Linked DNA regions of Homo sapiens: all the other regions are linked to region 1. The links come from fine-mapping of genetic effects on gene expression. A gene starts in region 1. Each other region holds a variant in brackets. All regions are shown on one strand. Distances are from middle to middle. Region 1 holds the start of HGSNAT (heparan-alpha-glucosaminide N-acetyltransferase). Region 2 overlaps HOOK3 (hook microtubule tethering protein 3). Region 3 overlaps POTEA (POTE ankyrin domain family member A (gene/pseudogene)). Region 4 holds the start of CHRNB3 (cholinergic receptor nicotinic beta 3 subunit). Region 5 has its middle 29 kb from the start of POTEA. Region 6 has its middle 370 kb from the start of POTEA.

Evidence for each region. PIP is the estimated chance that this variant, and not a neighbour inherited with it, causes the effect. A credible set is the group of variants that fine-mapping cannot tell apart.
Region 2: its variant is the best candidate, but not a certain one, in a credible set for the expression of HGSNAT in whole blood (INTERVAL, PIP 0.65).
Region 3: its variant is the best candidate, but not a certain one, in a credible set for the expression of HGSNAT in whole blood (INTERVAL, PIP 0.78).
Region 4: its variant is the best candidate, but not a certain one, in a credible set for the expression of HGSNAT in whole blood (INTERVAL, PIP 0.51).
Region 5: its variant is the best candidate, but not a certain one, in a credible set for the expression of HGSNAT in cerebral cortex (GTEx, PIP 0.62).
Region 6: its variant is the best candidate, but not a certain one, in a credible set for the expression of HGSNAT in whole blood (TOPMed, PIP 0.60).

The regions. Positions count from the first base shown.
Region 1 is chr8:43,137,890-43,142,977 of GRCh38, forward strand. HGSNAT (heparan-alpha-glucosaminide N-acetyltransferase) reads left to right here and starts at 2,575. Exons shown (of 18, transcript NM_152419.3): 1 at 2,575-2,725. The coding sequence starts at 2,608. RefSeq lists an enhancer at 1,237-1,531 and silencers at 2,375-3,164, 3,175-3,554.
Region 2 is chr8:42,992,902-42,997,901 of GRCh38, forward strand. It overlaps HOOK3 (hook microtubule tethering protein 3), which reads left to right. Exons shown (of 22, transcript NM_032410.4): 16 at 4,649-4,736. Among named protein-coding and RNA genes, the nearest start is that of FNTA, 61 kb to the right of the region's middle. The variant A/G (reference allele first, on the strand shown) is at 3,053.
Region 3 is chr8:43,310,067-43,315,154 of GRCh38, forward strand. All of the region lies in intron 6 of POTEA (POTE ankyrin domain family member A (gene/pseudogene)), which reads left to right. Among named protein-coding and RNA genes, the nearest start is that of POTEA, 20 kb to the left of the region's middle. The variant C/T (reference allele first, on the strand shown) is at 2,701.
Region 4 is chr8:42,695,699-42,700,786 of GRCh38, forward strand. CHRNB3 (cholinergic receptor nicotinic beta 3 subunit) reads left to right here and starts at 1,668. Exons shown (of 6, transcript NM_000749.5): 1 at 1,668-1,900. The coding sequence starts at 1,849. It overlaps LOC124900250 (a long non-coding RNA gene), which reads right to left and starts at 3,193. Exons shown (of 3, transcript XR_001745887.2): 1 at 3,114-3,193; 2 at 1,628-1,802; 3 at 800-877. The variant A/T (reference allele first, on the strand shown) is at 2,022.
Region 5 is chr8:43,260,803-43,265,890 of GRCh38, forward strand. It overlaps the pseudogene AFG3L2P1. Among named protein-coding and RNA genes, the nearest start is that of POTEA, 29 kb to the right of the region's middle. The variant T/C (reference allele first, on the strand shown) is at 2,675.
Region 6 is chr8:43,661,858-43,666,945 of GRCh38, forward strand. No RefSeq gene overlaps it. Among named protein-coding and RNA genes, the nearest start is that of POTEA, 370 kb to the left of the region's middle. The variant C/T (reference allele first, on the strand shown) is at 1,958.

The sequences.
Region 1 (5,088 bases):
CTCAGTTCCACAGTTTTTCCTTAGCATTTGGCTTACGAGAAGGAGTCCATGCAACCCCTCAACCCCTGAGCATAAGTGAGGTCTAGGGAACTCCAAGACTACTGACAGCAGGGGTGATAGGGCATTCATGGGTAGAGGAGATAATTCCCACCCTCTAGACCCCTGCTTCATGGATGCAAGCCATTTTGGCACCCATGGTAGCACTTTCGAAGGTTGCATGGGGATGCAAGGATGGAAGAGGACGCTATTCCTTCTATCCCTCACGTACCCCAGGTATTTGCTAGGAAAAGAACCAGGGATGCCTGCTCCCCTCTTTCTATGTGGGTAGCCATTTATCTTCAGTCTGCACCACTTTCAAATGCATCTGGAACCCTTCGGATTCCTTTGAAAAAATGCCTTCTTTTTTCCTTTCTCCTCCTCGGTTCACAATGACAATCCTAATTGTGTCTCCATACTATGGGACACTCCCCTCAGATGCATTTTCCAAACTGGAAAGAGTTAATTTCCTAAACCTTAAACTGGCTGGCTTAGGATTGGTTTCAGGGGAAGGGAACCCAGAAGCCCAACATGCCAGCAAAAGGGTAAAGTTGTTTACCATTCGGACTTTTGGCCCCCTTCTCCGTGTACAAATTGGTAAAAAGCCTCAGGATTTTTGAGCTGTCCTTATCCCTCCCCTTGTTTCTTTTCTTTTCTTTTTTTTTTTGAGACAGGGTCTCACTCTGTCGCCCAGGCTGGAGTGCAGTGATGTGGTCTTGGCTCACTGCAACCTCCGTTCAAACGATTCTCCTGCCTCAACCTCCTAAGTAGCTGGGAGTACAGGCAGGCACCACCACTGCTGGCTAATTTTTGTATTTTTAGTAGAGACAGGGTTTCACCATGTTGGCCAGGCTGGTCTTGAACTCCTGACCTGCCAGGCTGGAGTGCAGTGGCATAATCTTGGCTCACTGCAAACTCTGCCTCCCGGATTCAAGTGATTCTCCTGCCTCAGCCTCCCAAGTAGCTGGGACTACAGGTACTTGCCATGACGCCCGGCTAATTTTTTGTATTTTTAGTAGTGACAGGGTTTCACCATGTTGGCCAGGATGGTCTCGATTTCTTGACCTCGTGATCCACCTGCCTTGGCCTCCCAAAGTGCTGGGATTACAGGCGTGAGCCACTGTGCCCGGCCATATGTGTTTAATAACCCAGTTTGTCTCTTCTTGCCTTCAGGACATCAAACGGTCATGCTACTGGAAGCTCGGACCATGGCCCCTTCTGCTGGGCACCCTTAGATAGGCCTCTGAGGGAGATCTGATTGCCATTTTCCCGAAACAGTGCCCCCTATCAGCAGGAAGCAGTTAAGATCTGTCTTTGTCCCTATTCTTATCCTAGTGGCAGTTAGATAGACTTCTTTAGAGCGAGGAATGAGCCAGATGGGAAGGGTTCCCTGGTAAAACTCCAACTGGCCTGTGCACTGCTCTGGGGTGGAGCCACAGAAGTTCGCTCCTCAGTTTGCAGCTGGGAGGAGCCTGGCCCTCCTCTTCCTCGGGAGAACCTGGGATTTAATCTGTGAGGTGGGAAGCCTACAACTAGGAGAACTCTGGCTCTGCTGAGTCCCTGTTCCCCTTTTTCTTCCTTTACACCCAATAAAACCCTGCCTTACCCTTCAAATTGTCTGCGAGCCTAATCTTTCCTGGCGTGTGACAAGGACCTCCACCGTCTTTAGCTGAACTAAGGAAAAGTCCCGCAACATTTTCATGTGTGCCTTTGTATTTTTATTACATATATGGATGTCCCTAAACAACATACATTATTGTTTTGCTTTATATATTAAAAAGGCATTCTGCAATTTGCATTTTCCCCAGCCTTGTGTTTTGAGATTTATCCATGTGGATGCGGGAAGCTGTAGAGCACTTCCCCTGCTGTGGGGCAGTTTGTTTTCTCGCTGGCGGACATTCAGCTTGTTGACAAGGTTTTGCAATTACAAGCACCTCTGCTATAGGTATTACTGTACCTGTCCCTTATACCTGCGATAGTGTCTCCCGGCATACAGCCAAGAATGGGTGTGCACACTCCTCGACCTGCTCCCTTCCACTTCGTCAGCCTGGCCGGGGGCTCTTTCAAGAGGTGGGGCCGCTTGGTGGCTTCTAAGTCGTGCCTCTCCCTCTGGGTAATAAACGCCTTGGGGGCAGGGACTTTGCAGTCTTGCTTATTGAGGCGTTTTCCAAAACAGGGACCGAGGGCTCTAACACCCGTGCGGAGGGTGGCCGGCGGGGGCGGGAGTTTGGCAGAATGCGGCTGGAGAAGGTGGGGCGAGGGAAGAAGGCTCCTGGCCTGCAGGGGCCTCTCTTCCGGCTGTTTTTCCTCCCGAAGACAAACACTCCCAACGCAGGGGCGCAGAGCCTCGGCTTCTTTCCTGGCCAGCTCCCTCAAGGCAGGGCCTAGCATGGCCCGGCCCAGCCCCTAGGTTCCCCCGCCCGCGGCTCCCGGGCGCCTCCGCCTCCCGCGGTGACTCAGGCGGCGGTGACGGCAGCGGAGGGGGCGATGACGGGCGCGCGGGCGTCCGCGGCGGAGCAGCGCAGGGCGGGGCGCAGCGGGCAGGCAAGGGCGGCCGAGCGGGCGGCGGGCATGAGCGGGGCGGGCAGGGCGCTGGCCGCGCTGCTGCTGGCCGCGTCCGTGCTGAGCGCCGCGCTGCTGGCCCCCGGCGGCTCTTCGGGGCGCGATGCCCAGGCCGCGCCGCCACGAGGTGAGTGCACACCTCCTACCGCCGCCCGGCCGGCTACGAGCGCAGCGTCTCCTCTCCGCGGCGCCGCCCCTATCTCCGTGCGCGGCGCCGAGCGCTAGGCCGGGCCGGAACCGCCCCCGTGGCCTGGGCTGTTGCTGCGACTTCGCGGTCCCGCGCCCCAGACCGGAGGCCGGACTTCGGGGTGCTGCGGCCGGGCCCCGCGGAGGCGGGGGAGGGGGCGGTTCGGACCGCGGCGGAGTGGAACCTGGGCGCCCAGGCGGCGCCCACCCCAGCGGAGCCTGCGTCCTGGCGCCTTCCGTCTAAACAGAGGCCGCGGATCGGGACGCCGGGACCCCACAAACTGGCAGCCAGGAGGCGGGCCAGCCGAGGATCGGGGGGGCTCGGACTCCCCCTGCACCCAGTCCACTGTTCGGAGGGACTTAGAGCAGGGTCCCTTCCCTGAGGGCCTCGCCCCCGAGGACGTGGCGCCGGAGCCGTGCGACCCATTGGCTTCAGCGGGTGGGAAGCCTGGGGCCGGGACGCGCGTTCGCCCCGCGCTGGGGTTGAACCTGCGTGGATGTGCGGCGGGTGAGGAACCGCGGAGAAGGCGGTGGGGGCGCGGCCTGCAGCCCGGTCCCGGGCGAGCCCTCCGCGCGTCTCCCCTCGGCGCGTTTTCCCTCCAGGGTGACTGGGAAGCCGCCGCCGCCGCCGCCGCCGCCTGGGAGGGGCCGGGCTGGGCGCTTTTGCCCCGGGCCCCGGACCCCGGGCGTTTGTCCGGTGCGCTGGCTTAAGAGGCGCTCAGCTCATACCGTGATTGCACAACTGGCTTGCTCTCCGAACTCGGTGGGGAAAACGGTGACAAATACAGATTCCAGGTCTCCATCTAGACCCCTGCACCGGGGAGCCCCAGGCCCTAGGTCCTTCGCACACGCCCCTCCCAGAGGGGTCGGGCAAGCATCGCAAACCCCTTTGGGTAGGAGGGACGGTGGGAGTCACCTGTCTTTCCCCTCTCGCGCCCTTTTCTTGGTCAGAATACGAAGTTTTAGTGTCTGTGTATGGAGTTCAAACGACCCCTCCTCTCCAAGCAGAAGCTGGAGGAGAAAGGCGTTGTGAATTTTGGAAAAGCGGCTCAGAGGATTACATTTTGTGCGATCCTTGATCCACCCAACCTTCATCTCCTGCGCTCCCCTCCTTTAAAATTGCAAGGACCCCGGGGAGGTTATGTAATCTGCCTGATCACAATTTGTCAGGGACTGATCCCGCCGAACACTCTTTGCATTTTAGCGCCAGTATTAGCTTATCAAAGGGCACTTACTTTTAGAGAGAGGTGGTTTGTAAATAGTAATCACACGTAGTGAGGGGAAGCCGCGTTGGGACCGCAAGGCTTTCCCTGTCACCTGGAGCCCATGTTTGGGCCGCACAGCTTTCCTACTAAAAACGTCATCATCTTCCTTCTTTTTGAAAATTCAGCATTTGCTTGAAGAAAAAAAAAAGTAGACTATGTCTTTAAAAATATGCCCAGCAAAGATAACTCACGAGCAGAGAGCTAGACCAGAAATTAAATATTTGGAAAGGAAATAAAGGTGTAATACACAAGCAGCACATTTATCCCCGCACCATTGGAAGGTGACTTTATTTGGTAATTTGCCCACCAAGACGAGGTAGACCAGAGGAGAGAGAAGGAAATAATTGTTCTTTTGTCTGTAACGCTCTGGGGGTATTGCCCTGGAATTTCTTAGGTCAGCTGCTGTGTGGGAAGGTGACAGCTTTTTCTTGAAGCTGAACATCAAGCTCAGTTTCGAGGTCATATTTGATGACTTATTTGATGGCTTAGTAATTGGGTCCTTTGGTCGTGTCTGTAAGTGATACAGACTGTTATTATTATTTTTAAAAACCACATTCAAATAATGCAAAGTGAAAAAAAAAGGTGTCAAAATCCGCTGGCGTTACTCTGACAGTCTCTAGCTGTGGTTCCCTAGCTGTGGTCTTCACCCTCGGCTGCACACTCGAATCCCTTTGGGAGGTTCGTTGTTTTTTGTGGGAAATTAAAAAAATCATGCTGATTGGGCAGAGATTCTGATTTAATTGGTCTGGAATGGGGCCAGGGCATTGGTAACTTTTGTAGTTTTTTTAGAGCTTCCTCAGGTAATTTTGACATTCAATGAAGACTGAGCCCCTCTGCACATTCCCAAATAGCATAGTTAGTAACAATGACAATGAAGAGCTTTCAGCCTAAAATTCGTGTGGATAATCTAAGTATAAAACAAGTACCTTATTCCGCCCACCACCAAAGGCTTAGAGAAACATGAGTACACACAGTACTTATTCCATCTACGAAGGGATGATGATGTGTGGAGAAATTACGAAGGAAAAGCTCATGGCTT
Region 2 (5,000 bases), 150 kb before region 1:
AGACTTTCAGTTTTTCCCCATTCAGTATGATACTAGCTATGGGTCTCTCGTATGTAACTTTTATTATGTTGAGGTATGTTCCTTTTATACCTAGTTTTTTGAGAGTTTTTATCATGAATTGTCATTGAATTTTATCAAATGCTTTTTCAACATCAATTGAAATGATCATATGGTCTTTGTCCTTTATTCTATTGATATAATGTGTCACATTAGTTGGTATGAGGATGTTGAACCATCCTTGCATACCTGGGATCAATCCCATTTGGTCATAATAAATGATCTTTTTAATGTGTTGTTGAATTTGGTTTGCAGTATTTTATTGAGGATTTTTGCATCAATATTCATTAGTTATATTGGCCTATACTTATATATATATTTTTAAGACAGGGTCTTACTCTGTCGCCCAAGCTGGAGTGCAGTAGCTTAGTAGAGCCAGGTTTTCACCGTGTTGGCCAGGCTGGTCTCGAACTCTTGACATCAGGTGATCCACCTGCCTTGGCCTCCCAAAGTGTTGGGATTACAGGCGTGAGCCACTATGCCTGGCCTATAGTTTTGTTTTGTTTTTTTTCTTTTGATGTGTCTTTGTTTCGTTTTGGTATCAGGGTAATATTTGCCACATAGAATGAGTTTGGAGGTATTCCTTCTTCCTCTGTTTTTCAGAATAGTTTGAGTAGGATTGGTATAAGTTCTTCTTTAAATGTTTTGTAGAATTTGCCAGTGAAGTCATCGGATCTGGGGCCTTTATTGGTAGACTTTTTATTATGGCTTCAATCTCATTACTTGCTATTGGTCTGTTCAGGTTTTGGATTTCTTCATGATTCAATCTTGGTAGATCATATGTGTCTAGGAATTTATCCATTTCTTCTAGATTTTTCAATTTTTTGGCATATAGTTGCTCATAATAACCAGTAATCCTTTGAATTTCTCCGGTATCAGTTGTAATGTCTCGTTTTTTTGTCTCTGATTTTATTTATTTGGGTCTTCTCTCTTTTTTTCTTAGTCTGGCTAAAGGTTTGTCAATTTATCTTTTCAAAAAACTGGTTTTTGTTTTGTTGCTCTTTTGTATTGTTTTCTTCATTTCAAATTCATTTATTTCTGCTCTGATCCTTATTTTTTATCTATTTGTTTATTTAGAGACAGAGTCTCACTCTGTCACCCAGGCTGGAGTGTAGTGGCGCGATCTCGGCTCATGCAACCTCCACCTCCTGGGTTCAAGTGATTCTCCTGCCTCAGCCTCCAGAGTAGCTGGGACTATAGGCGTGCACCACCACCCCCGGCTAATTTTTGTATTTTTAGTAGAGATGGAGTTTCACCATGTTGGCCAGGCTTGTCTCAAACTCCTAACCTCAAGTGATCCACCCACATTGGCCTCCCAAAGTGCTGGGGTTATAGATGTGAGCCACCACACCCAGCCTGCTCTTATCTTTATTATTTCTTCTACTAATTTTGGGTTTGGTTTGCTCTTCCTTTTCTAGTTCATTCAGTGGCATCGTTAGGTTGTTTATTTGAAGGTTTTCTCTTTTTTGATGTAGGTACTTGTGCCCATAAATTTCCCTCTTACTACGGCTTTTGCTGTATCCCATAGATTTCGGTATGTTGTGTTTCCATTATCATTTGTTTCAATAAATTTTTCAGTTTCCTTGTTGATTTCTTCACTGACCCACTGGTCATTCAGGAACATATTGTTGAATTTCCATGTGTTTGTATAGTTTGTAAAATTTCTTTTGTTAACTGATTTCTAGTTTTATTGTGTTCAGAGAAGATACTTGATATTATTTCAATTTTTTGAGTATTTTCTAGATGTACTTTTTTCATAAATATTTTCTTATATTTATGTTGCTTACATACTGCATACTTTAACAGTTACATTACTATTTTTGCTCACCTATTCCCCATTGAGAGAATTTAGCTGTTTTTAAACCATTCCAAAGAACATCTTGGTACATACTGGATTGTGTTTTATGATGTTTACAATGGCTTCCGCCTAGTTGGCTTACAGTATTGTTTGATGAAATAATCTCAAAAATGACTAAGATGGATAGTTGAAATAATCTTTTAGTTGAATACATATTTCCATTTTGCTTTCTGAAAAGAGTGAACAGTATTGTGGTATTACTAGTAATGTGTTTATGGACCTGTGTCCCCATATTGAATGTGGATTTTTCAGGTAATTTATTCTTTTGTTACTCAAAACCACTCAGATTTTTTTACCTTGATGTGAAAAAGTTATAGCTTTAATTAAATTTTTACTGTGATCCTTTCTAAATTATAAACCTATAATTTCTTATAATTTAAGTAAAAGCATTTCTTATTAAACTGTTTGGCTGTTTGGATTCTAAACACTCATTGTCTTGTTTTCTCCTTAATTTGGAGCAGTCTGGCTTCTGCTACTACCATTTCACGAAAGTATTTCTTACTAAGATAACTGGTCATCTCTTAAATGGCCAATCCCATAGCAGCACTCAAGACTTTTATCTTTCCTCACCTTTCTACTATATTCAGTGTTGTTATTCAGTTCCCCCTTCTTCAAATTTTTTATTTCAATAATACCCATCTCTTACATTCTCTCTCATTCTCTGATATTCTTCAGGGTGAGGTTCCTCTTTCTACCCCTTGATTGATCCGCCATGGGCCTTCTTTGTTAGTCTTTTACACTGTTTTTCACATTCTTTCTAGACAATATCATTTTTGCTCATGGCCTCAGTTAACTCCACATGGCTCCCAAATCTGTATGTTCAACTCAGGCTTCTCTCTGCTTTAGATTGAGGTATCTAGCTGTTTGACAAATTTCTAGGCATTTCATTTTCAACAAATGTAAAATCAGATTCCTATATTTCTTTCTTATCCTATTCCTTTTGTCTTCCCTTCTCAGCGAATACCAAAATCCTTATATTCTTTTGCCTTTTCTCAAGATAGTTCGTCTGTCCCTTTCTATTTCCTCCTCTGTCCCTTTCTATTTCAGGCATATTTAGTAATAATAATAATAATAGCCTTCTCTCATCTTCATGCCTGCTCTTGAACCTTTTTGATACTATCTTCCATTTTAAAACCA[A/G]AGTGATCTGTCTGACATACTACCTGTGTGGTCTGTCTGACCATGTTTTCCCTTCTTGCAATCCTTCAGTATCACCCAAGACCTTGGGAGGTAAGCTGGTCTCCTGAATGTTGCATCATGACCTAGAGAATTTATGAAAGTCAAGCCATGGGCCAGGCGCGGTGGCTCATGCCTGTAATCCCAGCACTTTGGGAGGCCGAGGCAGGTGGATCACCTGAGGTCAGGAGTTCGAGACCACCCTGATCAACATAGTGAAACCCCGTCTCTACTAAAAATACAAAAATTAGCCAGGCATGGTGGTGCGCATCTGTAATCCCAACTACTCAGGAGGCTGAGGCACGAGGATTGCTTGAGCCTGGGAGGCGGAGGTTGCAGTGAGCTGAGATTGCACCATTGCACTCCAGCCTGGGCAACAGAAGGAGACTCCGTCTCAAAAAAAAAAAAAAAAAAGAAAAAGAAAAAGAAAAAAGAAAGTCAAGCCGTGGAATCAGCGTTATTTAAGGTTATCTGAGTTGTTCCAGTTTCAGCCTGACTTGAGGCTTGCTGATTACAGGATAATCCCAGCAGACACTTTGTATTCCATACAGGGTTGTGCTGATCTCCTTTTCCCCCAGTTTCTCTCCGGCCTTTCTTCCTCTCATAACATACTCATCATCTATACCATTCCTGAATTCACTGCATCCTCTTATTTTTCTGCATACTTTGGACATACTGACCTCTGTCTTGAATCTCCTTTCCACCCTTAACTCATAGATGTTTTATTTATTGTTCTAGTCTCATTTCAAGCCCAGAGTATTTTAACTCCTCCAGAGAGTTATTGCTTCTTTGACCATCATTTTTATATGCATCTATGTACTACTTTGAAGTTTTTATCTGATTGTATTTTATTTGTTTACACTTTTTCCTCCCCACTAGACTTTAATTCCGTGAGGGCAGGGATCTTTTTTTTTTTTTTTTTTTTTTTTTTTTGGGAGGCAGGGTCTCACTGTGTTGCCCAGACTGGAGTGCAGTGGCACGAACACAGCTCACTTCAGCCTCGACCTCCTGGGCTCAAGCGATCCTCCTACCTCATCCCCACAAGTAGCTGGGACTTACAGGTGCTTACCACCATGCCTGGCTAATTTTTCTATTTTTGGTAGAGATGGAGTTTCACCATGCTGGCCAGGCTGGCCTCAAACTCCTGAGCTCATGCAGTCCATCCACCTTGGCCTCCCAAAGTGCTGGCATGGGCCACCACCCACTTCCTGAGTGCAGAGATCTTTTAATACTAGTGCTGAGCACAGTCCTTGAGACATAGTCTTCATAAACATGTATTGAAGTGAATTTCAGAGAAATTAATATGCATAAGTACATTGGTTCTAAAATATGTGCCCACCCAAACACTGTGTTAGAAGTCATCATTCGAAATTTCAAGCAATACCAAAAATAATCAGAAAAGTAAGCTGCCACTCATGACATTAGGCCACTACTATACTACTACTGCTATAACATGAGACTTGATTTTGCTAATTATACTTTCTAACTAATATGACAACCTAGGGAAAAAAGGCATACGTAACTCACCACTTGGAAAATTAATGTACATTTCATTTCTAGGCTGGTGAATCAAAGACTTCTGGAAGTACAGTCACAAGTTGAAGAATTACAAAAATCTTTACAGGATCAAGGCTCAAAAGCAGAAGATGTAAGTTTTAATATGTACCAACGATGGTCCATCAGTTTCACAATGTTGAGAAATAACTTTTATTTTTTATTTGATGTTTTTTGTCAAAATAATTTAGTATTATATTGGTTATAGAAAAGAAATAGTGTTTTCCTTTTTACTAACATTCCTTATAAAAAGGACCAGATAGTACTTTATTGTCTCTTCAGATTCGCTCTGCTGGGAATTAGAAGTTCATTTCTAGTTACCAACTGAAGAATTAATTGAGGCTTTATGTTTTAAATG
Region 3 (5,088 bases), 170 kb after region 1:
ATTTGCGTAGAGGTGTTTGTAGTATTCTCTGATGGTAGTTTGTATTTCTGTGGGACCGGTGGTGATATCCCCTTTATCATTTTTTATTGCATCTATTTGATTCTTCTCTCTTTTTTTCTTTATTAGTCTTGCTAGCAGTCTATCAATTTTGTTGATCCTTTCAAAAAAACCAGCTCCTGGGTTCATTAATTTTTTGAAGGGTTTTTTGTGTCTCTATTTCCTTCAGTTCTGCTCTGATTTTAGTTATTTCTTGCCTTCTGCTAGTTTTTGAATGTGTTTGCTCTTGCTTTTCTAGTTCTTTTAATTGTGATGTTAGGGTGTCAATTTTCAATCTTTCCTGCTTTCTCTTGTGGGCATTTAGTGCTATAAATTTCCCTCTACACACTGCTTTGAATGCATCCCGGAGATTCTGGTATGTTGTGTCTTTGTTCTCGTTGGTTTCAAAGAACATCTTTATTTCTGCCTTCATTTAGTTATGTACCCAGTAGTCATTCAGGAGCAGGTTGTTCAGTTTCCATGTAGTTGAGCGGTTTAGAGTGAGATTCTTAATCCTGAGTTCTAGTTTGATTGCACTGTGGTCTGAGAGATAGTTTGTTATAATTTCTGTTCTTTTACATTTGCTGAGGAGAGCTTTACTTCCAAGTAGGTGGTCAATTTTGGAATAGGTGTGGTGTGGTGCTGAAGAAAATGTATATTCTGTTGATTTAGGGTGGAGAGTTCTGTAGATGTCTATTAGGTCTGCTTGGTGCAGAGCTGAGTTCAATTCCTGGGTATCCTTGTTAACTTTCTGTCTCATTGATCTGTCTAATGTTGACAGTGGGGTGTTAAAGTCTCCCATTATTAATGTGTGGGAGTCTAAGTTTCTTTGTAGGTCACTCAGAACTTGCTTTATGAATCTGGGTGCTCCTGTATTGGGTGCATATATATTTAGGATAGTTAGCTCTTCCTGTTGAATTGATCCCTTTACCATTATGTAATGGCCTTCTTTGTCTCTTTTGATCTTTGTTGGTTTAAAGTCTGTTTTATCAGAGACTAGGATCACAACCCCTGCCTTTTTTTATTTTCCATTTGCTTGGTAGATCTTCCTCCATCCTTTTATTTTGAGCCTATGTGTGTCTCTGCATGTGAGATGGTTTTCCCGAATACAGCACACACTCGACTCTTTATCCAATTTGCCAGTCTGTGTCTTTTAATTGGACCATTTAGTCCATTTACATTTAAAGTTAATATTGTTATGTGTGAATTTGATCCTGTCATTATGATGTTAGCTGGTTATTTTGCTCGTTAGTTCATGCAATTTCTTCCTAGTCTCGATGGTCTTTACATTTTGGCATGATTTTTCAGCGGCTGGTACCCGTTGTTCCTTTCCATGTTTAGCACTTCCTTCAGGAGCTCTTTTAGGGCAGGCCTGGTGGTGACAAAATCTCTCAGCATTTGCTTGTCTGTAAAGTATTTTATTTCTCCTTTGCTTATGAAGCTTAGTTTGGCTGGATATGAAATTCTGGGTTGAAAATTCTTTTCTTGAAGAATGTTGAATATTGGCCCCCACTCTCTTCTGGCTTGTAGAGTTTCTGCTGAGAGATCCGCTGTTAGTCTGATGGGCTTCCCTTTGAGGGTAATCCGACCTTTCTCTCTGGCTGCCCTTAACATTTTTTCCTTCATTTCAACTTTGGTGAATCTCACAATTATGTGTCTTGGAGTTGCTCTTCTCGAGGAGTATCTTTGTGGCATTTTCTGTATTTCCTGAATCTGAAAGTTGGCCTGCCTTGCTAGATGGGGAAAGTTCTCCTGGGTAATATCCTGCAGAGTGTTTTCCAACTTGGTTCCATTCTCCCCGTCAGTTTCAGGTACACCAATCAGACGTAGATTTGGTCTTTTCACATAGTCCCATATTTCTTGGAGGCTTTGCTCATTTCTTTTTATTCTTTTTTCTCTAAACTTCCCTTCTCGCTTCATTTCATTCATTTCATTTTCCATCATTGATACCCTTTCTTCCAGTTGATCACATCGGCCCCTGAGGCTTCTGCATTCTTCACGTAGTTCTCGAGCCTTGGTTTTCAGCTCCATCACCTCCTTTAAGCACTTCTCTGTATTGGTTATTCTAATTATACATTCTTCTAAATTTTTTTCGAAGTTTTCAACTTCTTTGCCTTTGGTTTGAATGTCCTCCTGCAGCTCAGAGTAATTTGATCGTCTGAAGCCTTCTTCTCTCAGCTTGTCAAAGTCATTCTCCATCCAGCTTTGTTCCGTTGCTGGTGAGGAACTGCGTTCCTTTGGAGGAGGAGAGATGCTCTGCTTTTTAGAGTTTCCAGTTTTTCTGTTCTGTTTTTTTCCCCATCTTTGTGGTTTTATCTACTTTTGGTCTTTGATGATGGTGACGTACAGATGGGTTTTTGGTGTGGATGTCCTTTCTGTTTGTTAGTTTTCCTTCTAACAGACAGGACCCTCAGCTGCAGGTCTGTTGGAATACCCTGCCGTGTGAGATGTCAGTGTGCCCCTGCTGGGGGGTGCCTCCTAGTTAGGCTGCTCGGGGTCAGGGGTCAGGGACCCACTTGAGGAGGCAGTCTGCCCGTTCTCAGATCTCCAGCTACGTGCTGGGAGAACCACTGCTCTCTTCAAAGCTGTCAGACAGGGACATTTAAGTCTGCAGAGGTTACTGCTGTCTTTTTGTTTGTCTGTGCCCTGCCCCCAGAGGTGGAG[C/T]CTATAGAGGCAGGCAGGCCTCCTTGAGCTGTGGTGGGCTCCACCGAGTTCAAGCTTCCTGGCTGCTTTGTTTAGCTAAGCAAGCCTGGGCAATGGCGGGCGCCCGTTGCCCAGCCTTGCTGCCGCCTTGCAGTTTGATCTCACACTGCTGTGCTAGCAATCAGCGAGACTCTGTGGGCGTAGGACCCTCTGAGCCAGGTGCGGGATATAATCTCGTGGTGCGCCGTTTTTTAAGCAGGTCAGAAAAGCGCAGTATTCGGGTGGGAGTGACCCGATTTTCCAGGTGCGTCCGTCACCCCTTTCTTTGACTCAGAAAAGGAACTCCCTGACCCCTTGTGCTTCCCAAGTGAGGCAATGCCTCACCCCGCTTTGGCTCACACACGGTGCACGCACCCACTGACCTGCGCCCACTGTCTGGCACTTCCAAGTGAGATGAACCCAGTACCTCAGATGGAAATGCAGAAATCACCCATCTTCTGCGTTGCTCACGCTGGGTGCTGTAGACCGGAGTTCAATAAAATGTTATTTAGAAAACCATAAGGGAGACTGGATTTGGCCTGTGGCCTATAGTTTTCTGACCCCTCATAGAGGATTGATGGAAGGTAACCATGTAAAGAAACCAGGAGACAAAGGAAGATTTGCTGTAGTCAGCTACAGTTTCCTTGTCACATGTCCTTGGACTAGTATCAATTTATTATAAGGTTTTCACCCATCCATCGTGAAATAAATAAAGTTAGGAATCTCAGTTATTCATTTTAAAATGTTGGCCTTTTTTTGGTGTTATGCCTTTTTCATTTGTTTTGTTTTAATTTTTTTTCATGTAAGAAATAACATTAACAGCTGGGTTTTTTAAAAAAATAAAAGCCACTTTGTAAATGTTTATGTTCCCAGTGGCAGTGGGAATATAAAATGGAAGCAGAAGAGAGGTATAGTCAATATGATTTAGTGACTGTTGAATGAGAAAATTTAGGGGACAGAGAGAAATCCCAGATGATTCACAGGTTTCCAGGTTGTACAGTATTATTTAACCTGAACATGAGGAAGGAGTAGGAAATTTTCTGGTGAATACAGAAGAGCAAAGAAGAGCAGCTCAAGAGGAATGACTAATTATTTTTCTGTGCATGTTTAATGGGATATTCATATAGGATTTTTGAATAGATCATTGAATATCAGCATTTATAGCTGGCATCCTACTAGTTTGACTCTCAGTAATAAGACTTGTCAAAGATCCAAGAATCTGAAAGTTGATGATAAATTTCCATGTGTATCACCATCAATGACTGAAAGTCAGCATCCACAGAATTGGGAGAGATGAACTTAATAGATAAAGATGAATTGGAGTTGTGTTTCTCTTAGAGAATGATACTCTCCATGACTTGTGTGAGTCACAGCTGCCAGAAAACAAAGAGGCCAAGGAACATATTAAAGAAGCACAGCAAATTCAGTCCTAGAGTGCCTCTGCTTGGCTTCGTGTTATAGTTCTGACTTCTAAAAAATCACTTTTTGGCAAAATATACTTTGTGTTTCTTCCCCTCTTGCAAACTGCAACCAAACAGAATCCTTTTTAGCAAGGCATTTTTGTGTTCTTTGACCAAAGCAACATATAAATAACAAAAAGAAGTAAGAGAAAGAACTTTTTTTTGTGTGTATAGGCTAGTATTTAACATAAACTTGAGAGTGAGTGCCAGTATTATATTTAGGATTTAGGGACTAGATAGGAAAACTGGATAGAAATCTAAAGATTGCTGACTCAAACACAATGTGGTTTCTTTGCTTTATTTTCACAGCTCTGAATTCACAACTATTAGTTATATTTATATGCACTATAACTTTAGAAAGCACCTTCCCAAACCAAATTTTATGTGATTTCTTATAATTTAGATGACTTTATTATAGAATTGAATTTCCAACTGTTCATAAGAATTATTGAGCATTTGCTGCATAGTATCATCTCAGCTGTGTCCACATGAGCTACCTATCACCTTGTGTTAATGAATAATGGTTCACCAGGAATATTGGTTTTGGCATTTAAAGTGATCTGTATTTAATGCAGATAGGACCAGGGACCACTCTTGAACATTAATGTCCAAGCATCTTAAAATTACACAGAATGCTTTCATAATCAGAATTCTGCCTCACTCTCCATCTTTAGCCCTTTTCCCCATGTGCCCTTTCTCTGGCATTACTGAACTGCCTGCAATGCCCTACTCACTCATCCTTCTCTTGTAGGCAAATACATTCACTCTTTCACACCTTACTCCCTCTCTTGCTGCTTCCTGGCATACTGCCAACCTTTCCTGCCCTCTACCCCTTGTAATCTGGCTAGCCTCAATATTTAAGTCTCTGCTTGGCCATGATTTCTAGAAAACCATCCCTGACATGCTTTAT
Region 4 (5,088 bases), 440 kb before region 1:
GGACCGTGTGGGTGGGGCATGGACCCCAGCTGTGGTCAAGGCAGCCTGGAGGATACAAGACTGTGCCATATTTTGGGGACCACAAAAGGCTTCCAGATTCAGTTGCTCCCCTAGGGAGAAGGCTGCAGGGCCTGCAATGACTGAGATTGGATTTCCAGCCAGTTCCATGGAAGGCTAGCTTCATTTTATTCAATTTCTTGAAAATAAAGGTGAAACTTCCTGCACACTTGGATTGGCGGTGGCTGATTTACTCCTGAGACCATTACAAATTCTCAGCAGGCTGGGAGCACAGTTGAGATGGATAGGAGGAAATCAGTGCATGGCTCCTTCCTTCCTCCTTGCATTCCCACAACGTTCTCAAGCATTTGCAGGTGTCAGGCCCTGGACACAGAGAGATACAGAGGAGACTCCAGAGGGCTGGAGACCAAGCCCTCCTGCAGGAGCTGGTGGTCTAGGAAGGGAGGCCAGGCAGGGCAGCGACATTGTGATGTGAGGGGCTCTGAGACAGGGGCCCTGAGGAACAGACAGGGCTCAAGAGCTCAGGGTCCCGGGGTCCTGGGCTAGACCTCTTTTCCACACATGATGCCTCCTTACCGAGCACCCTCTGGGTGTCTCAAACTCACTAATGGCACACAGAGGAGGGTTAAATTAAGAAATTTAAAAATTGGACTAAATCACTGCCGCTAAGACAGAATTCCTCCATGCCCTGGAGTGGGTTCCTCCAGCACTCAGTTCCCAACCAGATAGGTCTTGGCTCCCACCTGGCCCTCTTGTCTGTCTAGCCCTGACTTTGTACTTGCCATTCATTTGATGTATCATGCATTTATCAAGGGCCCTCTGGGTGTGCACAGCACTGAACTAGATGAAATCTGATCAACTGTGAAGAAGAAAGGATGGTGTTATTAGTGTCCAAGTCTCATACATAAAACACCACTAACCTCCCACCCTACTGTCCCCTGCAGTGACCAGAAGGTGGGCCTGGTGGGGTCAAGGGAGCCACAGAGAATGTGCTGATATTAACACATGTGGGAACCAGCAGAATAGGGAGGCTCCAGGACATACTCATGACTTCAGGTCCAACTGGAAAAGAGAATAGAGAGGCTGGGCGCAGTGGTTCATGCCTGTAATCCCACCACTTTGGGAGGCCAAGGCGGGCGGATCTCCTGAGGTCAGGAGTTCAAGACCAACCTGGCCAACATGGTGAAACCCTGTCTCTACAAAAATACAAAAATTAGCTGGGCATGATGGCAGGTGCCTATAATCCCAGCTACTCAGGAGGCTGAGGTGGGAGAATGGCTTGAACCTGGGAGACGGAGGTTGCAGTGAGCCGAGATTGCACCATTGCACTCCAGCCTGGGTGACAGAGTGAGACTCCATATCAAAAAAAAAAAAAAAAGAATAAAAAGAAAAAGAAAAGAGAATAGAGAAATAACGGGGATGAGAAACTTTTCACTATGGATGTGGTAAAGTGTGGTTCTTCTGTACGCAGATCTCCAACTGTAAGAAAAATAGCACAGAACATTCAGAAGTTGTCTAGTTTCATCCTTTCTCCAGTGCCCCGCATCTCTTGCAAGGGAGTAAATTAATAAGTCAGGAGTTAGGACCCAGAGATATGTTTTAGACTTACACGATCTGACAGCTGACTGCAAATCAATGAAGTGCACTTTGAGAAGCGGCACACTCGGCGAGAGGGGTTGAGATTGTTTTATTCCACTCCAGGTGTTGCTGTCCTCTTGGGTTCCACTTCGGATTTTGAACCCCTGTATTTTCTTTTCAAAACCCCCTTTTCCAGTGGAAATGCTCTGTTGTTAAAAAGGAAGAAACTGTCTTTCTGAAACTGACATCACGATGCTCCCAGATTTTATGCTGGTTCTCATCGTCCTTGGCATCCCTTCCTCAGGTAAGCACAAGTCACAGTAAATTAAAACTACAGTTGCAGAATTATTTAAGCAGAGGAGGCAAAACTATGGTGTTGATAATGTTAGAATTACAATATGTAATGCACAAGATACATTTAGGAT[A/T]ACCTTTAAAATGTGGCCCAAATGAGTAATTCTGTGAGATGTGGGGTTTTTTTTGCTGAAGAAATCATATCTATGATTTTCATAATGTTTATGTTTTTGTCATTTGCTGCGTTTCTCCTTCTGAATCACTATGAGCTTGGTAAGAAAATACAAAAGCAGGAAAAACATTATTGAATGCACTGAGCATTACTCAGAGAATTGTTCAAATATTTGGCACAGAAATTTACTATATCAACATTTTTCTATCATATTTACCAATAATTTCTATATCTGCATGTAGATATTTAATTTTGTCCAATATGCCCTGTAGGCCTATATATTTTAATAAATCTGTGTATGTAGGTAGATTTAGCATGTTTATATATCACAATTAAACACCAATGTATCAAAACTCTATGTGTTTTATGTGACTATTATCAACTGAAAATAGAGGAATTTTTGATAAGGATAAAGGACAAATAAAAGGAAAAAGTGAAAGATAGAGACAGAGATGCAGAGAAAGAACAAAAAGAGAAAAAGAAAGGGGAATAAAGTACTGAAAGGCTTTGGGGATTGGTCATTTGCACCTGCCAATTTCCTGGGTTTGGGAATCTTTTCACTTTTTGTGTAACTTGAGAACAGAAAGTTTTCCCCCATTGAATCAGAAACCATCTGAAACCGCAGCCAGATGGTGAGAAAAGTGTCAGTTCACTAGCAATTTGTATTAATTTCTCAGTAGTATTTTTGCCACGTTTGATTATTGTAATTTTCAAATGGAGAACTGGAGACACTAAGGGAGATTTGCCCAAATCCAGAAATAAATTCTACATTTCAAGTTCCCAAGGCTGCGAGGCACCTGAACATTATCCTGTTGTCAAAAACGCCTTTTCTCAGACCAAGGACTCAAAGTCAAACAGGAATTTCTAAATGCAGAAAGCCTCAAACTCACTTTCAAATATCATGAAATTTGGACTTTTCAAAGTCTTGAATGCAGTTTGCCAATCACAAAAATGATAAGAAAATTCTGTGTGTTTGAGCTTACCATTAATGTACGTGTGTCTGATGTTTTTCTGTCTTTATTATTCTATTTATTATAAGACAATTGATTCTTACCACTCTTTTCCCAAGGAATGATTTCTCTCAATGGTTAGCGAGGGTGTTTAGCATAAACTCTCTTGGTTCAGCTAAGTCTCGTCCTCTGTGTACAATCATGATTACATAAGAAAACTGGAATTGCTTGGCCTCTGGCATTGGTCTCCATTGTGTGGGCTGGAAGAGTTTGGGAAGATTGTGTAATCTTTCACAGATCTATAATAAATCTAATAACCTGTGATAAATCTTACATCTGTATTTCTAGATCCATCAGCATCTGCTCATATTTTTAAATCTGTCCCATATTTCCTTACATTTTTTAACTTTACTATTCATTGTAAACAAAATAGTTTCTTTTTGTTATGCAAAACTACTTTTTTCAAATTACAAGAGGCAACCCCTTCATTTTTATATTTCTGGCTTTGGTAAAAAGGAGCCTTGGGTGTGGCCATGGGTTGTCTCTCATATTGCTATTTCATATTTTGTGTGTGCTATCTGCTCTCAAAAAGCAGGAGGTGTATCTTATTTATCTTCCCATCTCTCTTACAACATGATGATATGATAAGACACAATGTGTTTATTCATTCAATAAATACTTATTGAGCATCTACTGTATCCTAGGAATGGTTCCAGTGTCTAGGAATGCAAGAGGAAATAAAAACAAAGCCATTTTCTAATAAGCTCTCAGCTGGGCATCATGGCTCACACCTGTAATCCCAACACTTTGGGAGGCCAAGGTAGGCAGATCACCTGAGGTCAGGAGTTTGAGGCCAGCCTGACCAACATGGTGAAACTCCGTTTCTACTAAAAATACAAAAAATTAGCCAGGCGTGGTGGCACACGCCTGTAATCCCAGCTGCTCGGGAGACTGAGGCAGAAGAATCGAATCGCTTGAACCTGGGAGGCAGAGGTTGCAGAAAGCCGAGATCACACCACTGCACTCCAGCTTGGGCAACAAGAGCGAAACTCGGTCTCAAAAAAAGAAGAAAAAGGTCTCATGCTATCAAGAATCCATTGAATATGCATTCTTTGATTTCACCATGAGGGCTAGCTCCATGGGTGACGGAAGAGGCTGCCATATTTGTGGTATGCTTTTTTTTTTTTTTTTTTTGACGAGGCGGCAATAGTGGAAGGAAGAAACAAAATATACCAAAAGGCATCAAAGCAAAAAAATCCACATTTCACAATCGTCTTTGCTGAGATTTGGAATTCTTCAATAATTTCTTTTCTTTTTTTTTTTTGAGATGGAGTCTCGCTCTGTCGCCCAGGCTGGAGTACAGTGGCGCGATCTCTGCTCACTGCAAGCTCCGCCTCCCGGGTTCACGCCATTCTCCTACCTCAGCCTCCAGAGGAGCTGGGACTACAGGTGCCCACCACCACGCCCAGCTAATATTTTTTGTATTTTTAGTAGAGATGCGGTTTCACCGTGTTAGCCAGGATGGTCTCAATCTCCTGACCTCGTGATCCACCCACCTCGGCCTCCCAAAGTGCTGGGATTACAGGTGTGAGCCACTGCGCCCGGCCTTGTTTTTTGTTTTTTGTGGTTTTTTTGAGACGGAATCTCGCTCTGTCACCCAGGCTGGAGTGCAGTGGCAATCTTGGCTCACTGCAACCTTTGCCTCCTGGATTGAAGGGATTCTCCTGCCTCAGCCTCCCGAGTAGCTGAGATTACGGGTGCCCACCATCACACCTAATTCTTTTTTATTTTTAGTAGAGATGAGGTTTCACCATGTTGGCCAGGCTGGTCTCAAACTCCTGACCTTAGGAGATCCACCCGCTCCGGCCTCCCAAAGTGCTGGGATTACAGGCATGAGCCACCATGCCCGGCCCAATTATTTCTTTTCTGTCCTGGCTGAGGATAAAAAAATGGCATTATCAGTAAAACCATAAATAATCCTGAAGATTTTTATGAAATCCTGTTCATAAAATTATGGACAGATGTTGATGGATCTAGAAATACAGATCTGAGATTTATAACAGGTTATTGGATTTAGTA
Region 5 (5,088 bases), 120 kb after region 1:
GTCCATGTGTTCTCATTGTTCAGTTCCCACCTATGAGTGAGAATATGCGGTGTTTGGTTTTTTGTTCTTGCGATAGTTTACTGAGAATGATGATTTCCAATTTCATCCATGTCCCTACAAAGGACATGAACTCATCATTTTTTATGGCTGCATAGTATTCCATGGTGTATATGTGCCACATTTTCTTAATCCAGTCTATCATTGTTGGACATTTGGGTTGGTTCCAAGTCTTTGCTATTGTGAATAATGCCACAATAAACATACGTGTGCATGTGTCTTTATAGCAGCATGATTTATAGTCCTTTGGGTATATACCCAGTAATGGGATGGCTGGGTCAAATGGTATTTCTAGTTCTAGATCCCTGAGGAATCGCCACACTGACTTCCACAATGGTTAAACTAGTTTACAGTCCCACCAACAGTGTAAAAGTGTTCCTATTTCTCCACATCCTCTCCAGCACCTGTTGTTTCCTGACTTTTTAATGATTGCCATTCTAACTGGTGTGAGATGGTATCTCATTGTGGTTTTGATTTGCATTTCTCTGATGGCCAGTGATGGTGAGCATTTTTTCATGTGTTTTTTGGCTGCATAAATGTCTTCTTTTGAGAAGTGTCTGTTCATGTCCTTTGCCCAGTTTTTCATGGGGTTTTTTTTCTCTTGTAAATTTGTTGGAGTTCATTGTAGATTCTGGATATTAGCCCTTTGTCAGAGGAGTAGGTTGCGAAAATTTTCTCCCATTTTGTAGGTTGCCTGTTCACTCTGATGGTAGTTTCTTTTGCTGTGCAGAAGCTCTTTAGTTTAATTAGATCCCATTTGTCAATTTTGGCTTTTGTTGCCATTGCTTTTGGTGTTTTAGACATGAAGTGCTTGCCCATGCCTATGTCCTGAATGGTAGTGCCTAGGTTTTCTTCTAGGGTTTTTATGGTTTTAGGTCTAACGTTTAAGTCTTTAATCCATCTTGAATTGATTTTTGTATAATGTGTAAGGAAGGGATCCAGTTTCAGCTTTCTACATATGGCTAGCCAGTTTTCCCAGCACCATTTATTAAATAGGGAATCCTTTCCCCTTTGCTTGTTTTTCTCAGGTTTGTCAAAGATCAGATAGTTGTAGATATGTGGCATTATTTCTGAGGGCTCTGTTCTGTTCCATTGTTCTATATCTCTGTTTTGGTACCAGTACCATGCTGTTTTGGTTACTGTAGCCTTGTAGTATAGTTTGAAGTCAGGTAGTGTGATGCCTCCAGCTTTGTTCTTTTGGCTTAGGATTGACTTGGTGATGCGGGCTCTTTTTTGGTTCCATATGAACTTTAAAGTAGTTTTTTCCAATTCTGTGAAGAAAGTCATTGGTAGCTTGATGGGGATGGCATTGAATCTGTAAATTCATGATATTGATTCTTCCTACCCATGAGCATGGAATGTTCTTCCATTTGTTTGTATCCTCTTTTATTTCCTTGAGCAGTGGTTTGTAGTTCTCCCTGAAGAGGTCCTTCACATCCCTTGTAAATTGGATTCCTAGGTATTTTATTCTCTTTGAAGCAATTGTGAATGGGACTTCACTCATGATTTGGCTCTCTGTCTGTCTGTTGTTGGTGTATAAGAATGCTTGTGATTTTTGTACATTGATTTTGTATCCTGAGACTTTGCTGAAGTTGCTTATCAGCTTAAGGAGATTTTGGGCTGAGACAGTGGGGTTTTCTAGATATACAATCATGTCGTCTGCAAACAGGGACAATTTGATTTCCTCTTTTCCTAATTGAATACCCTTTATTTCTTTTTCCTGCCTAATTGCCCTGGCCAGAACTTCCAACACTATGTTGAATAGGAGTGATGAGAGAGGGCATCCCTGTCTTGTGCCAGTTTTCAAAGGGAATGCTTAAAGCTTTTGCCCATTCAGTATGATATTGGCTGTGGGTTTGTCATAGATAGCTCTTATTATTTTGAGATACGTCCCATCAATACCTAATTTATTGAGAGTTTTTAGCATGAAGGATTGTTGAATTTTGTCAAAGGCCTTTTCTGCATCTATTGAGATAATCATGTGGTTTTTGTCTTTGGTTCTCTTTATATGGTGGATTACATTTATTCATTTGCGTATATTGAACCAGCCTTGCATCCCAGGGATGAAGCCTACTTGATCATGGTGGATAAGCTTTTTGATGTGCTGCTGGATTCGGTTTGCCAGTATTTTACTGAGGATTTTTGCATCAATGTTCATCAAGGATATTGGTCTAAAATTCTCTTTTTTGGTTGTGTCTCTGCCCAGCTTTGGTATCAGGATGATGCTGGCCTCATATAATGAGTTAGGGAGGATTCCTTCTTTATCTATTGATTGGAATAGTTTCAGAAGGAATGGTACCAGTTCCTCCTTGTACCTCTGGTAGAATTTGGCTGTGAATCCATCTGGTCTTGGACTCTTTTTGGTTGGTAAGCTATTAATTATTGCCACAATTTCAGATCCTGTTATTGGTCTATTCAGAGATTCAACTTCTTCCTGGTTTAGTCTTGGGAGAGTGTATGTGTCGAGGAATTTATCCATTTCTTCTAGATTTTCTAGTTTATTTGCGTAGAGGTGTTTGTAGTATTCTCTGATGGTAGTTTGTATTTCTGTGGGATCGGTGGTGATATCCCCTTTATCATTTTTTATTGCATCTATTTGATTCTTCTCTTTTTTCTT[T/C]ATTAGTCTTGCTAGCGGTCTATCAGTTTTGTTGATCCTTTTCAAAAACCAGCTCCTGGATTCATTAATTTTTTGAAGGGTTTTTTGTATCTCTATTTCCTTCAGTTCTGCTCTGATTTTAGTTATTTCTTGCCTTCTGCTAGCTTTTGAATGTGTTTGCTCTTGCTTTTCTAGTTCTTTTAATTGTGATGTTAGGGTGTCAATTTTGGATCTTTCCTGCTTTCTCTTGTGGGCATTTAGTGCTATAAATTTCCTTCTACACACTGCTTTGAGTGCGTCCCAGAGATTCTGGTATGTTGTGTCTTTGTTCTCGTTGGTTTCAAAGAACATCTTTATTTCTGCCTTCATTTCGTTATGTACCCAGTAGTCATTCAGGAGCAGGTTGTTCAGTTTCCATGTAGTTGAGCGGTTTAGAGTGAGATTCTTAATCCTGAGTTCTAGTTTGATTGCACTGTGGTCTGAGAGATAGTTTGTTATAATCTCTGTTCTTTTACATTTGCTGAGGAGAGTTTTACTTCCAAGTATGTGGTCAGTTTTGGAATAGGTGTGGTGTGGTGCTGAAAAAAATGTATATTCTGTTGATTTGGGGTGGAGAGTTCTGTAGATGTCTATTAGGTCCGCTTGTTGCAGAGCTGAGTTCAATTCCTGGGTATCCTTGTTAACTTTCTGTCTCATTGATCTGTCTAATGTTGACAGTGGGGTGTTAAAGTCTCCCATTATTAATGTGTGGGAGTCTAAGTCTCTTTGTAGGTCACTCAGGACTTGCTTTATGGATCTGGGTGCTCCTGTATTGGGTGCATATATATTCAGGATAGTTAGCTCTTCTTGTTGAATTGATCCCTTTACCATTATGTGATGGCCTTCTTTGTCTCTTTTGATCTTTGTTGGTTTAAAATCTGTTTTATCAGAGACTAGGATTGCAACCCCTGCCTTTTTTTATTTTCCATTTGCTTGGTAGATCTTCCTCCATCCTTTTATTTTGAGCCTATGTGTCTCTGCACGTGAGATGGGTTTCCTGAATACAGCACACTGATGGGTCTTGACTCTTTATCCAATTTTCCAGTCTGTGTCTTTTAATTGGACCATTTAGTCCATTTACATTTAAAGTTAATATTGTTATGTGTGAATTTGATCCTGTCATTATGATGTTAGCTGGTTATTTTGCTCGTTAGTTCATGCAGTTTCTTCCTAGTCCCAATGGTCTTTACATTTTTGCATGATTTTGCAGTGGCTGGTATCGGTTGTTCCTTTCCATGTTTAGCACTTCCTTCAGGAGCTCTTTTAGGGCAGGCCTGGTGGTGACAAAATCTCTCAGCATTTGCTTGTCTGTAAAGTATTTTATTTCTCCTTCACTTATGAAGCTTAGTTTGGCTGGATATGAAATTCTGGGTTGAAAATTCTTTTCTTCAAGAATGTTGAATATTGGCCGCCACTCTCTTCTGGCTTGTAGAGTTTCTGCCGAGAGATCCGCTGTTAGTCTGATGGGCTTCCCTTTGTGGGTAACCCGACCTTTCTCTCTGGCTGCCCTTAACATTTTTTCCTCATTTCAACTTTGGTGAATCTGAAAATTATGTGTCTTGGCATTGCTCTTCTCGAGGAGTATCTTTGTGGCGTTCTCTGTATTTCCTGAATGTGAATGTTGGCCTTCCTTGCTAGATTGGGGAAGTTCTCCTGGATAATATCCTGCAGTGTTTTCCAACTTGGTTCCATTCTCCCTTTCACTTTTAGGTACACCAATCAGACGTAGATTTGGTCTTTTCACATAGTCCCATATTTCTTGGAGGCTTTGTTCATTTCTTTTTATTCTTTTTTCTCTAAACTTCCCTTCTCGCTTCATTTCTTTCATTTCATCTTCCATCACTGATACCCTTTCTTCCAGTTGATCGCATCGACTCCTGAGGCTTCTTCATTCTTCATGTAGTTCTCGAGCCTTGGCTTTCAGCTCCATCAGCTCCTTTAAGCACTTCTCTGTATTGGTTATTCTAGTTATACATTCGTCTAAATTTTTGCAAAGTTTTCAACTTCTTTGCCTTTGGTTTGAATTTCCTCCTGTAGCTCAGAGTAGTTTGATCGTCTGAAGCCTTCTTCTCTGAACTCGTCAAAGTCATTCTCTGTCCAGCTTTATTCCATTGCTGGTGAGGAGCTGCATTCCTTTGGAGGAGGAGAGATGCTCTGCTTTTCAGAGTTTCCAGTTCTTCTGCTCTGTTTTTTCCCCATCTTTGTGGTTTTATCTACTTTTGGTCTTTGATGATGGTGATGTATAGATGGGTTTTTGGTGTGGATGTCCTTTCTGTTTGTTAGTTTTCCTTCTAACAGACAGGACCCTCAGCTGCAAGTCTGTTGGAGTACCCGGCCGTGTGAGGTGTCAGTCTGCCCCTGCTGGGGGGTGCCTCCCAGTTAGGCTGCTTGGGGGT
Region 6 (5,088 bases), 520 kb after region 1:
AAATGATCCCAGATAAAAACTAGAAAGAAGCTATCTGTGGAACAGTTTTATGAAGTGTGGATTCATCTCACACAGTTAACACATTCTTTTGATTCAGCAGGCTGGAAACAGTCTTTTGTGGAATCTGTGGATGGACATTTGAAATCCCTTTGAGACCTGTAGAGAAAACGGAATACTCTCAGAGAAAAAGTAGAAAGAAGCTATATGTGAAACTGCTTTGTTTTACGTTGATTCATTTCAAAGAGATAAACCTTTCTTTTTATTCAGAAGTTGGAAACAGTCTTTTTGTAGGGTCCGCAAGGAGACATTTTGGAGCCCATTGAGGCTTGTAGTGAAAAATCAAATATCCCCAGATAAAAGCTAGAAAGACGCTGTCTGTGAAACGACTTTGTGATGTGTGGATTCATCTCACAGAGTTAAACCTTTCTTTTGATTCAGCTGGTTGGAAACACTTCTTTTTTTAGAATCTGCAAAAGGATATTTGGGAGCCCACTGAAGCCCTTGTTGAAAAACTGAATATTGCCAAATGAAAATTAGAAAGAAACTATCTACAAAACTCGTTTGTGTTGTGTTGGTTCACCACACTGAGTTAACTCTTTCTCTTGATTAACATGTTGGAAACACTCTTTTTTTAGAATCTGCAAAGGGACATTGCAGAGCCCATTGAAGCCTGCAGTGAAAAACGAAATATCCCCAGATAAAAACTAGAAAGAGGAAATCTGTAAAATTGCTTTGTGATGTGTGGATTCATCTCACAGAGTTAAACTTTACTTTTGATCAGCATGTTGGAAACAGTCTTTCTGAAGAATCTGCAAAGAGACATTTGGGAGCCCATTGTGGCCTTTGGTGAAAAACAGAATATCCCCAGAAAAAAAGTAGAAAAAACTATCTGTGAAACTGCTTTGTGATATGTGGATTCATCTCACAGAGTTAAACTTTAATTCAGCAGTTTCTAAACTCTGCTTTTGTAGAATATTTGAAAAGGCATTTGGGAGCCCATTGAGGCATAAGGTGAAAAATATCCCAAGACAAAAAAAGAAAGAAATATCTGTAAAACTGCTTTGTGATGTGTGGATTCATCTCAGAGAGTTATATATTACTTTTGACTCAGCAGGCTGGAAACACTCTTTAAGCACTCTTTTTGTAGAATCTGTGAAGGGACATTTGGGAGAACATTGTAGCCTATGGTGAAAAACTGAATATCCTAGATAAAAACAAGAAAGAATTTCTCCATGAAAGTACTTTCTGATGTGTGCAGTCATCTCACAGAGGTAAGCTTAAATTTTCTTTCTGCAGACCGGTAACACGTCTTTGTAGGATCTGCGAAGGGACATTGTTTAGGCCATTGAGACCTGTGGTGGAAAACAGAATATCCCCAACTATAAACTAGAAAGAAGCTAATAGTGAAATTCCTTCATGATGTTTGGATTCATCTCACAAAGATAATCCTTTCTTTTCATTCATTCGCTTTTAAGCTCTCTTTTTGTAGGATATGTTAAGGGACATTTTAGAGCTTATTGAGGCCTATAGTAAAAAACAAAATATCCTCAAATAAAAACTAGAAAGAAGCTATGTGTGAAAGTGCTTGATGATGTGTGCATTCATCTCAGAGAGTTAAACCTTTTTTTTTATTCAGTGGGTTGGAAACACTCTTTTTGTAAAACCTGCAACAGTATATCTGGGAGAGCATTGAGGCCTAAGGTGAAAAACTGAATATACAAAGATAAAAACTAGAAGGAAGTTATCTGTGAAACTGATTTTTTGAAGTTTGGATTCATCTCATGAAATTAAACCTTTCATTTGGTTCAGCAGGTTGGAAACACTCTCTTTATAGAAACTACTAAGGGACATTTGAAAGCCTATTGAGGCCTATGGTGAAAAATAGAATATCTCCAGATAAAAACGAGAAAGAAGTTATCTGTGAATCTGCTTTGTGATGTGTGCATTCATCTCATAG[C/T]GATAAAAGTTTCTTTTGATTTGACTGGTTGGAAACACTCTTTTCATAGAATCTGGGAAGAAACATTTTTGGGCCCCTTAAGGACTATGGTGAAAAATCAAATATCCCCAGGTAAAACAAAAAAGCAGTTATCTTTGAAAGTCCTTTGTGATGTGTGGATTCATCTCACAGAGTTAAGTCTTTCTTTTGATTTAGCAGTTAGGAAACACTTTTTTTGTAGAATCTGCAAAGTGACATTTGGGAGCCCATTGAGGACTATGGTGAGAAACCAAATATCCACAGATTAAAACGAGTAAGAAGCTGTCTGCGAATGTGCATTGTGATGTCTGGATTCATCACACAGGGATACAACTTTCTTAAATGCAGTAGGTTTTATGCACTCTTTTTTTAGAGTCTGCGTAGGGACAGTTGGGAACCCTTTGAAGACTGTGGTGAAAAAACATATATTCCCAGATAAAAACTAGAAGCAAGCTATCTACAAAACTGCTTTGTGATTTGTAGATTCATCTTACAGTGTTAAACCTTTCTTTTGAATCTGTACATTGGAAAAACTTTCTTTGTAGAAGCTGCAAAGAGACATTTAAGGGGCAATTGAGGCCTATGGTGAAAAACTAATTATCCCCAGAAAAAAAAAAGAAAAAAGTTATCTGTGAAACTGCTTTGTAATGTATGGATTCAAGTCACAAGGTTAAACAGATCTTTTGATTCAGCTGGTTACAAACACTCTTTTTGTAGAATCTGTGAAGAGACATTTGGTAGTGCATTGAGGCCTATGGTAAAAAAAAAGATTATCCCCCTAAAGAAAACAGAAAAAAGCTATTTGTGAAACTGCTTATTGAGGTGTAGATTCATCTCACAGAGTTAAACCTTTCTTCTGATTCAGAAGATTGGAAACACTCTTTTTGTGGAATTTGTGAGGGGACATTTGAGAGCCCGTGGAGGCCTAGGGTAAAAAATTGAATATCCCAAGATAAAAACGAGAAAGAATCTATCTGTGAAAGTGCTTTGTAATGTGTGGATTCATCTCCCAGGGTTAAACATTTCTTTTGATTCAGCATGTTGGAGACACTCTTTTGTAGAAACTGCAAAGGGAAATTTGAGAGCCCATTGAGTCCTATGGTGAAAAACTGAATATCCCAACATAAAAACTAGAAAGAAGATAGCTAAGATAGTGCTTTGTAATGTGTGGATTTATCCCACTGAGATAAACCTTTCTTTTGATTCAGTGTGTTTTAAGCACTCTTTTTGTAGCATGTGCAAAGGGACATTTGAAAGCTGATTGGGTCATATAATGAAAAACAGAATATGCCCAAATAAAAACTAGAAAGAAACTGTCTGTGACACTGCTTTGTGATGGGTGGATTCATTTCACAGAGTTAAAACTTTCGTCTTATTCAGCTGTTTGGAAACGCTCCTTTTGTAGAATGTGTTAAAGGACATTTGAGAGCCCATGGAGGCCTAAGGTGAAAAACTGAGTATACCCAAATGAAAACCCTCTGTGAATCTTCTTTGTGATGTGTGTATTCATCTCAGAGGGTTACACCTTTCTTTTGATTCAGCAGGTTGGAAACACTCTTTTTGTATAATCTGCAAAGGGACATTTGGGAGCTGATTGAGGCCTAGTATAAAAAACTGTATATGCCTAGATAAAAACTAGAAAGAAGCTATCAGTGAACCTGCTTAATGATGTGTGGATTCATCTAACAGCGCTAAAAGTTTATTTTGGTTAAGTAGGTTGGAAAAACTTTTTGTAGAATCTGTGAAGAGAAATTTAAAAGCCCTTTGAGGGCTATGGTGAAAAACTGAATATCCTGAGATAAAAACAAGAAAGAAGCTATCTGTGAAACTGCTTTTGGATGTGTGGATTCATCCAAAAGAGTTAAACACTTCTTCGTGTTCAGCACGTTGGAAACACACTTCTTGGAGAATCTACAAATGGACATTTCTAAGACCATTGTAGCCTAAGGTGAAAAACCGAGTATCTTCAGATAAAAACTAGATATAAGGTATCTGTGAAACTACTTTGTCATGTGTGGATTCATTTCACAGAGTTAAAGCTTTCTTTTGATTCAGCAGGAAGAAAACACACTTTTTGTAGAATCTGCAAAGGGACATTTGGAAGCCCATTGAGGCCTACGATGAGAAACACATTATCCAGAGGTAAAACTGGAAAGAAGTTATCTGTGAAACTGCTTTTGATGTGTGGATACATCTCACAGAGTTCAATGTTTCTTTTGAATCAGGAAGTTGGAAACACTCTTTTTCCAGAATCTTCAAAGAAACACTTGGGAGCCCATAGAGGCATAGGGTGAAAAATCGAATATCCCAGTATGCAAACTAGAAAGAAGCTATCTGCGAGACTGCTTTTGATGTGCAGATACATATCACAGAGTTAAACCTTTACTTTTGATTCAGCAGGTTGGAAACATTCTTTTTGTAGAATCTGCAAAAAGACATTTCAGAACCTATTGAAGGCTATGGTGAAAAACAGAATATCCACAGGTAAAAATTGGAAAGAAACTATCTGTAAAAGTGCTTTGTGATGTGTGGATTCATCTCAGAGTTAAACGTTTGTTTTGATTCAGCAGGTTGGAAGCTCTTCTTTTGTAGAATCTGCGAAGGGAAATTTGGCAACCCAGAGAGTCTTGTGGTGAACAATAGAATATACCCAAATAAAAATTAGAAAGAAGCTATCTGTGAATCTGCTTTGTGATGTGTGGATTCATCTCACAGGGTTAAACATTTCTTTTGATTCACTAGTTTGGAAATCCTCTTTTTGTAGAATCTGTGAAGGGACATTTGGGAGCACATTGAGGCCTAAGGTACAAAACCAAGTATCCCAGTATACAAAGTAGAAAAAAGCTATCTGTTAAACTGATTTCTGATTTGTGGATTCATTTCATAGAGTTAAATTTTTTTTTTATTTAACATGTTGGAAGCTGTCTTTTTATGGAATCTGCAATAAGACATTTGGAAGCTATTTGAGGCCTACCATAAAAACCAGATATCCCCAGATAAAAACTAGAAACAAGCTATCATTTAAACTGTTTTGTGATGTGTCATTTCATCTCACAGAGTTAAAACCTTTCTTTTGATTTGGCAAGTTGGAAACACTTTTGTTGTGGAATGTG